Linked DNA regions of Homo sapiens: region 1 is linked to region 2. The links come from fine-mapping of genetic effects on gene expression. A gene starts in region 2. The other region holds a variant in brackets. All regions are shown on one strand. Distances are from middle to middle.

Region 1 (4,391 bases), 190 kb after region 2:
GAGAGAACACCACAAAGATACTCCTGGAGAAGAGCAACCCCAAGAAACATAATCATCATATTCACCAAGGTTGAAATGAAGGAAAAAATGTTAAGGGCAGCCAGAGAGAAAAGTCAGGTTACCCACAAAGGGAAGCCCATCAGACTAACAGCAGATCTCTCAGCAGAAACCCTACAAGCCAGAAGAGAGTGGGGGCTAATATTCAACATTATTAAAGAAAAAATTTTTAACCCAGAATTTCATATCCAGCCAACTAAGCTTCATAAGTGAAGGAGAAATAAAATCCTTTACAAACAAGCAAGTGCTGAGGGATTTTGTCACCATCAGGTGTGCCTTAAAGAGCTCCTGAAGGAAGCACTAAATATGGAAAGGAAAAAGTGGTACCAGCCACTGCAAAAACAAACCAAAATGTAAAGACCATCGACACTATGAAGAAACCGCATCAACTAATGGGGAAAATAACCTGCTAGCACCATAATGACAGGATCAAATTCACACATAACAATATTAGCATTAAAGGTAAGTGGGCTAAATGCCCCAATTAATAGGCACAGATGGGCAAACTGGATGAAGAGTCAAGACTCATCAGTGTGCTGTATTCAGGAGACCCATCTCAAGTGCAAAGACACACTTATGCTCAAAATAAAGGGATGGAGAAATATTTACCAAGCAAATGGAAAGAAAAAAAAACAGAGTTTACAATCCTAGTCTCTGATAAAACAGACTTTATAATACAGGAGCACGCAGATTCATAAAGCAAGTTCTTAGAGACCTACAAAGAGACTTAGACTCCCACACAATAATAGTGGGAGACTTTAATACCCCACTGTCAATATTAGACAGACCAATGAGACAGAAAATTAACAAGGATATTCAGCACTTGAACTCAGCTCTGAACCAGGTGGGCCTAATAAACATCTACAGAACTCTCCACCTCAAATAAACAGAATATACATTCTTCTCAGCACCACATAGCACTTATTCTAAAATCGACCACATAGTGGTTCCAAGATGGCCGAATAGGAACAGCTCCAGTCTACAGCTCCCAGCATGAGTGACGCAGAAGACAGGTGATTTCTGTATTTCCAACTGAGGTACCAGGTTCATCTCACTGGGGTGTGTCAGACAGTGGGTGCAGGACAGTGGGTGCAGCCCACCAAGCAAGAGCCAAGGCAGGGTGAGGCATCACCTCCCCTGGGAAGTGCAAGGGGTAAGGGAACTCACTTTCCTAGCCAAGGGAAGCCATGACAGACAGCACCTGGAAAATTGGGTCACTACCACCCTAATAGTGCACTTTTCCAATGGTCTTAGCAAACAGCACACCAGGAAAATATATCTCGTGCCTGGCTCAGAGGGTCCCATGCCCACAGAGCCTCACTCATTACTAGCACAGCAGTCTGAGATCTAACTACAAGGTGGCAGTGAGGCTGGGGGGAGGGGTGACTGCCATTGCTGAGGCTTGAGTAGGTAAACAAAGCGGCCAAGAATCTCAAACTGGGTGGAGCCCACCACAGCTCAAGAAGACCTGACTGCCTCTGTAGACTCCACCTCTGGGGGCAGGGCATAGCTGAACAAAAGGAAGCAGAAACCTCTGCATATTTAAATGTCCCTGTCTGACAGCTTTGAAGACAGTACTGATTTTCCCAGCATGGAGTTTGAGATCTGAGAATGGACAGACTGCCTCCTCAAGTGGGTCCCTGACCCCCAAGTAGCCTAATTGGGAGGCACTCCCTGGCAAACAGGGTCTGGAGTGGACCTCCAGCAAACTCCAACAGACCTGCAGCTGAGGGTTCTGACTGTTAGAAGGAAAACAAACAGAAAGGACATCCACACCAAAACCCCATCTGTATGTCACCATCATCAAAGACCAAAAGTAGATAAAGCCACAAAGATGGGGAAAAGACAGAGCAGAAAAACTGGAAACTCTAAAAATCAGAGCACCTCTCCCCCTCCAAAGGAAGGCAGCTCCTTGCCAGCAACAGAACAAAGCTGGATGGAGAGTGACTTTGACAAGTTGAGAGAAGAAAGCTTCAGATGATCAACCTTCTCCGAGCTAAAGGGGGAAGTTTGATCCCATTGCAAACAAGATAAAAACCTTGAAAAAAGATTAGGTGAATGGCTGACTGAATAACCAGCATAGAGAAGTCCCTAAACGACCTGAC[G/C]GAGCTGAAAACCATGGCTCAAGAACTATGTGATGAATGTGCAAGCTTCAGTAACTGATTCGATCAACTGGAAGAAAGGGTATCAGTGATTGAAGATCAAACGAATGAAATGAAGTGAGAAAAGGAGTTTAGAGAAAAAAGAGTAAAAAGAAATGAACAAAGCCTCCAAGAAATATGGGACTATGTGAAAAGACCAAATCTACATCTGATTGGTGTACCTGAAAGTGACAAGGAGAATGGAACCAAGTTGGAAAACACTCTGCAGGATATTATCCAGGGGAACTTGCCCAACCTAGCAAGGCAGGCCAACATTCAAATTCAGGAAATACAGAGAACACCACAAAGATACTCCTTGAGAACAGCAACTCCAAGACACATAATTTTCAGATTCAACAAAGTTAAAATGAAGGAAAAAATGTTAAGGGCAGCCAGAGAGAAAGGTTGGGTTACCATCAAAGGGAAGCCCATCAGAGTAACAGTGGATCTCTCAACAGAAACTCTACAAGCCAGAAGAGAGTGGGGGCAAATATTCAACATTCTTAAAGAAAAGAATTTTCAACCCAGAATTGCATATCCAGCCAAACTAAGCTTCATAAGTGAAGGAGAAATAAAATACTTTACAGACAAGCAAATGCTGAGAGATTTTGTCACTACCAGGCCTGCCCTAAAAGAGCTCCTGATGGAAGCACTAAACATGGAAAGGAACAATCGGTACCAGCCACTGCAAAAACATGCCAAAATGTAAAGACCATCAATGCCAGGAAGAAGCTGCATCAACTAACAAGCAAAATAACCAGCTAACATCATAATGACAGGATCAAATTCACACACAACAATATTAACTTTAAATGTAAGTGGGCTAAATGCTCCAATTAAAAGACACAGAGTGGCAAATTGGATAAAAATTCAAGACCCATCAGTGTGCTGTACTCAGGAGACCCATCTCACATGCAGAGACACACACAGGCTCAAAATAAAGGAATGGAGGAAGATCTACCAAGCAAATGGAAAACAAAAAAAGGCAGGGGTTGCAATCCTAGTCTCTGATAAAACAGACTTTAAACCAACAAAGATCAAAGAGACAAAGAAGGCCATTACATAATGGTAAAGGGATCAATTCAACAAGAAGAGCTAACTATCCTAAATATATATGCACCCAATACAGGAGCACCCAGATTCATAAAGCAAGTCCTTAGAGACTTACAAAGAGACTTAGAGTCCCACACAATACTAATGGGAGACTTCAACACCCCACTATCAACATTAGACAGATCAATGAGACAGATAGTTAACAAGGATATTCAGGAATTGAACTCAGCTCTGCACCAAGCAGACCTAATAGACATCTACAGAACCCTCCACCCCAAATCAACAGAAAATACATTCTTCTCAGCACCACATCACACTTATTCCAAAACTGACCGCATAGTTGGAACTAAAACACTCCTCAGCAAATGTAAAAGAGCAGAAATTATAACAAACTCTTTCTCAGACCACAGTGCAATCAAACTAGAACTCAGGATTAATAAATTCACGCAAAACCACTCAACTACATGGAAACTGAACAACCTGCTCCTGAATGACTACTGGGTACATAACGAAATGAAGGCAGAAATAAAGATGTTCTTTGAAACCAACGAGAACAAAGACACAACATACCAGAATCTCTGGGACACATTTAAAGCAGTGTGTAGAGGGAAATTTATAACATTAAATGTGCACAAGAAAAAGAAGGAAAGATCTAAAATTGACACCCTAACATCACAATTAAAAGAACTAGAGAAGCAAGAGCAAACACATTCAAAAGCTAGCAGAAGGCAAGAAATAACTAAGATCAGAGCAGAACTGAAGGAGATAGAGACACAAAAAACCCTTCAAAGAATCAATGAATCCAGGAGCTGGTTTTTTGAAAAGATCAACAAAATTGATAGACTACGAGCAAAACTAATAAAGAAGAAAAGAGAGAAGACTCAAATAGATGCAGTAAAAAATTATAAAGGAGATATCACCACCGATCCCACAGAAATACAAACTATCATCAGAGAATACTATAAACACCTCTACACAGATAAACTAGAAAATCTAGAAGAAATGGATAAATTCCTTGACACATACACCCTCCCAAGACTAAACCAGGAAGAATTTGAATCCCTGAATAGATCAATAACAGCCTCTGAAATTGAGGCAATAATTAATAGCCTACCAACCAAAAAAAGTCCAGGACCAGAT
Region 2 (4,391 bases):
CTAAGGCATGCTCTTATGTAAGTGCATGATGAAATATGATTGATTGGAGCTAATTGTTGAACCATAATATAGTTGCAAAACAGGCCTGAAGCCATTCCATGGGGAGATGTGAACCTGGAATGGCCCTTCAGAAAAGTCTGGAATTGAGCCACAGAAGGAACCCTGTTTGCTTGCATTGGAGAGGCTAATGACAGAGCCTGGTGGACTTCAACTCTGTCATTATGGATATTTGATTGGTTAGTGCTTCTCTCCTTCTTCCACGGTGTTCCATGTAATAGAAAGACCTTCACACCTCATGCCCACTCCACAGGTGCATCCCCATGCCTCTTTCCCAGACCTCTTTCCTTCCTATTATCCAATCTTTCTGTTTATAGGTCCAGTCCATCAAACAAAGTCATCTGGAGCTCCTAGTCTCTGTATTCTTACCTCAGGATTATCTTATTTATACACAAAGTAGATAATCAGTTGTATTACTTGAAGCTCAATGCATTGAGAGGGTTAACAGTCATCAGTGACTATCAAGGCCCCCAGAGGGAAGCATTACTTCACTAAGTTTTACTTTTCCCATATACCAAGTCATTCTATATCTGAACCTAGAAAGGCTATTTTCTTCTGTCATCTGATCACAACAGACACCCAAGCACCTGAGGGTATGCACTGAGGTGAGGCACAACATTGGTGGGCAACAGGGTCTCTGAACCACCAGACTGTGCAGCTTAAATGGCCTTTTGTTAAGTACTGACAATAAACTGAGATTGTAGCCCAGACAAAAAGCTCTCTAAAGATGGTTAAGGATATTACATTCAAACTCTGTCAAACAGAAATGAGGTTTCTAAGAATCTTAATGTCATTACCTCTCAGCAGAATATCATAGTCCATCTATATGAATGGAGATATTTTGGGTGTGGCTTTTGTCTAATGGAGCAGATTCCAGTAAGAGTCACAAGAGACCAAGAAAAAGTTTAATAGAATTACATGGGCAGAAACACTGCTAGTTGGGACAGAAACTAACAGAGAATGTACAAAATGAAATGGTGCTATTTACCTCCCCCTCCACCCCTGGATTCTACTTTCAGAGAGCAGGTGGAAAAAACCACACACCGAAAACCACATACTAACTTTAATATAAAAGGAAGGATGTCTCTTAGGCAGAACCCAGAGACCAGATGTCAGAACCAACAACTGTATAGAATAACTCATTGGCAGGAGTAGGATAGCGTCTTTATCAAGGGGCACTCGATATTTGCCCAGCTGGATTTCAGAACTGCTATACAGCAATAACACTTGCATGACTCCTGTTTTCCCATCTAAGAATAGTGTCATATTTAGTAGACTTGTTTAATATCGTTGCTTCCTTGGCATGCCTTTTTAGGTCTGACATAAGTTATTTGAAACTCAGCTATACCCCATCACTTCAGCCTAGTTAAAACTTCCTCTTCCTGTGTGATTGTGATATAGCCAGCTGGAGGGTGGGTCTGCCTCTCCCAGTCCACTGACTCAAATGTTAATCTCCTTTGGCAACACCCTCACAGACACACCCAGGTACAATACTTTGTGCATCCTTCAATCTGATCAAGTTGACACTCAATATTAACCCTCATAGACTGTGATCCCTATGTTGCTGCCTTCCCTCGTTTCTATTGCTCTTTGGCCCCAACCCAAATAAGGTTCCTTGGGACACACTAAAGAAGGAGGTGGAGTTCGAAGGGGAGGAGAGATGTGAGCGAGGCAGGCAGGGAAGCTCTGCTCGCCCACTGCCCAATCCTCACCTCTCTTCTCCTCCACCTTCTGTCTCTGCCCTCACCTCTCCTCTGAAAACCCCCTATTGAGCCAAAGGAAGGAGATGAGGGGAATGCTTTTGCCTTCCCCCTCCAAAACAAAAACAAAAACAAACACACTTTTCCAGTCCAGAGAAAGCAGGGGAGTGAGGGGTCACAGAGCTGGCCATGCAGCTGCTGGGCTGTGAGGTAGACCCGGTCCTCAGAGCCACGAGGGACTGCAACCTACTCCAAGTTGACCGTGTCCTGAAGAACCTGCTTGCTATCAAGAAGCGCTACCTTCAGTAATGCTCCTACTTCAAGTGTGTGCAGAAGGCCATCCAGCCGTACATGCACAGGATGGTGGCCACTTCTGATGGTGGCCATTTGATTGGTGGCCACTTCTGATGGTGGCCAACATGATTGAACCATTTGGGATGGAAAAGCACCTTTACTCTCAGCCACCTGTTAACTAATGCTGGAGGTCTGTGAGGAACAGAAGTGTGAAGAAAAGGTTTTCCCTCTGGCCACGATTTACCTGGACTGTTTCTTCGCCAGGATCCCAACTTCAAAGTCCCATCTGCAACTCCTGGGTGCTGTCTGCATGTTCCTGGCCTCCAGGCTCAAAGAGTCCAGCCCACTGACTGCCAAAAAGCTGTGCATTTATACCGACAACTCCATCAAGCCTCAGGAGCTGCTGGAGTGGGAACTGGTGGTGTTGGGAAAGTTGAAGTGGAACCTGGCAGCTGTCACGCCTCATGACTTCATTTAGTACATCTTGCACAAGCTGCCCCAGCAGCGGGAGAAGCTGTCTCCAATCTGCAAGCAAGTCCAGAACTTCAATGCTCTGTATGCAATGTACCCGCCATCAATGGTTGCAACTGGAAGTGTAGGAGCAGCTATCTGTGGACTTCAGCAACATGAGGAAGTGAGCTCACTCCCTTGCAATGCCCTGACTGAGCTGCTGGCAAAGATCACCAACACAGATGTGGATTGTCTCAAAAGCCAACCGGGAGCATATTGAGGTGGTCTTCCTCAACAGCCTGCAGCAGTGCCATCAGGACCAGCAGGACAGATCCAAGTCAGAGGATGAACTGGGCCAAGCCAGCACCCCTATAGACCTGTGAGATATCGACCTGTGAGGATGGCAGTCCAGCTGAGAGGCGCATTCATAATCTGCTGTCTCCTTCTTTCTGGTTATGTTTTGTTCTTTGTATCTTAGGGCGAAACTTAAAAAAAAAAACCTCTGCCCCCACATAGTTCGTGTTTAAAGATCTTTTAGAAGTGACAGAAAATAGTCCTATAAAAACAGAATAAGAAAAAGCCTTTGGTGCTTATTTGAAGTACAGCATAAGGGAATCCCTCGTATATTCGAACAGTTATTGTTTGATTATGTAAAAGTAATGGTAAAATGCTTGCAGGAAAACCTGCAGGGTAGTTAGAGAATATGTATGTCTGCAATATGGAAACAAATTAGAGGAGACTTTTTTTTTTCATGTTGTGAGCTAGCACATACACCCCCTTGTAGTATAATTTCAAGGAACTGTGTATGCCATTTATGGCATGATTAGATTATAAAGCAATGAACTCAAGAAGGAATTGGAAATAAGGAAGGACTTGATGGGGAAGGAGTACAAAACAATCTCTCAACATGATTGAACCATTTGGGACGGAGAAGCACCTTTACTCTCAGCCACCTGTTACTAAGTCAGAAGTGTGGTTGGATCTCTATGTTGGGTACTCTTGCTGTCTACATTAGCTGCTACCTAAATAAGATGTTTTATTTTGCCAGTTGGACACAGGTGATTGGCTTCTGGATTTCTTGTCCTGTGACATCTTGCTTCTTCCAAATGCAGTTCATTGCGGACACCACAGTATTGCTATCTAATGGGGGAAATGTAGCTATGGGCTGTAACCAAAACTCACATGAAATGGAGGCAGATGGAGACCTGGGGTGGCATCCAGAATGGAATCTTTTCTCTTATTGTATTAAAAAGGGTAACGTGACCTTGGCATTCCTTCTTAGGAAAAACTAATTTTTGGTGCTGATTGGCATGTCTGCTCCACAGGTTAGCATTGTTCTAAACCATTCCATTCGAAAAGCACTTTGAAAAATTTTTCCCTAGCAATAGATGGCATGGTTTATGCAAGTCATGCTGAATACTCCTCCCCTCTTCTCTCTTGCCCCCTCCCTCCCTGCCTCCATCTGGGTTACTCTTCACCTCTGGTATCTGACATTCTTGGGTACACATTTCTGGTGTTCCTACCAGGACACAAGAGACACCTCTTTCTGCTGACATCCCCATCACAACATTCCTCAGAAAAGCCTAAAAACAAAGATCTGTTACCATTCTGATGACACAGAGGATCTTCATTTTATTTCTTTAAATACCTAATTTTACATCTTTATACTTCTTTGGACATGGAAAGTAAAGTTATTGCGGGTGCAAAGACAGATGGCTGAACATCAGGGGGTGGCATTTTGTTTCCTTTTCCTTTTTTGTTTTTGGTAATTTTATTGCAAAGTTGTATTCAGTGTACATGAATTTTTTTTCCTCTTCTGTTCTTTTTTCTTTTTTATTGTTATTTTTTTATTTATTTATTTTATTATACTTTAAGTTTTAGGGTACATGT

Direction of the effects. Alleles are on the strand shown, and positions count from the first base shown. SD is a standard deviation of normalised expression in the study named.
With allele G in place of C in region 1, the expression in nucleus accumbens of the gene that starts at base 2,461 in region 2 is higher (small effect, 0.23 SD a copy in GTEx).

Evidence for each region. PIP is the estimated chance that this variant, and not a neighbour inherited with it, causes the effect.
Region 1: its variant is the best candidate, but not a certain one, in a credible set for the expression of SLC22A25 in nucleus accumbens (GTEx, PIP 0.53).

The regions. Positions count from the first base shown.
Region 1 is chr11:63,429,441-63,433,831 of GRCh38, forward strand. No RefSeq gene overlaps it. Among named protein-coding and RNA genes, the nearest start is that of PLAAT5, 60 kb to the right of the region's middle. The variant G/C (reference allele first, on the strand shown) is at 2,163.
Region 2 is chr11:63,241,139-63,245,529 of GRCh38, forward strand. It overlaps SLC22A25 (solute carrier family 22 member 25), which reads right to left and starts at 2,461. Exons shown (of 12, transcript NM_199352.6): 1 at 2,296-2,461. It also overlaps the pseudogene CCND2P1.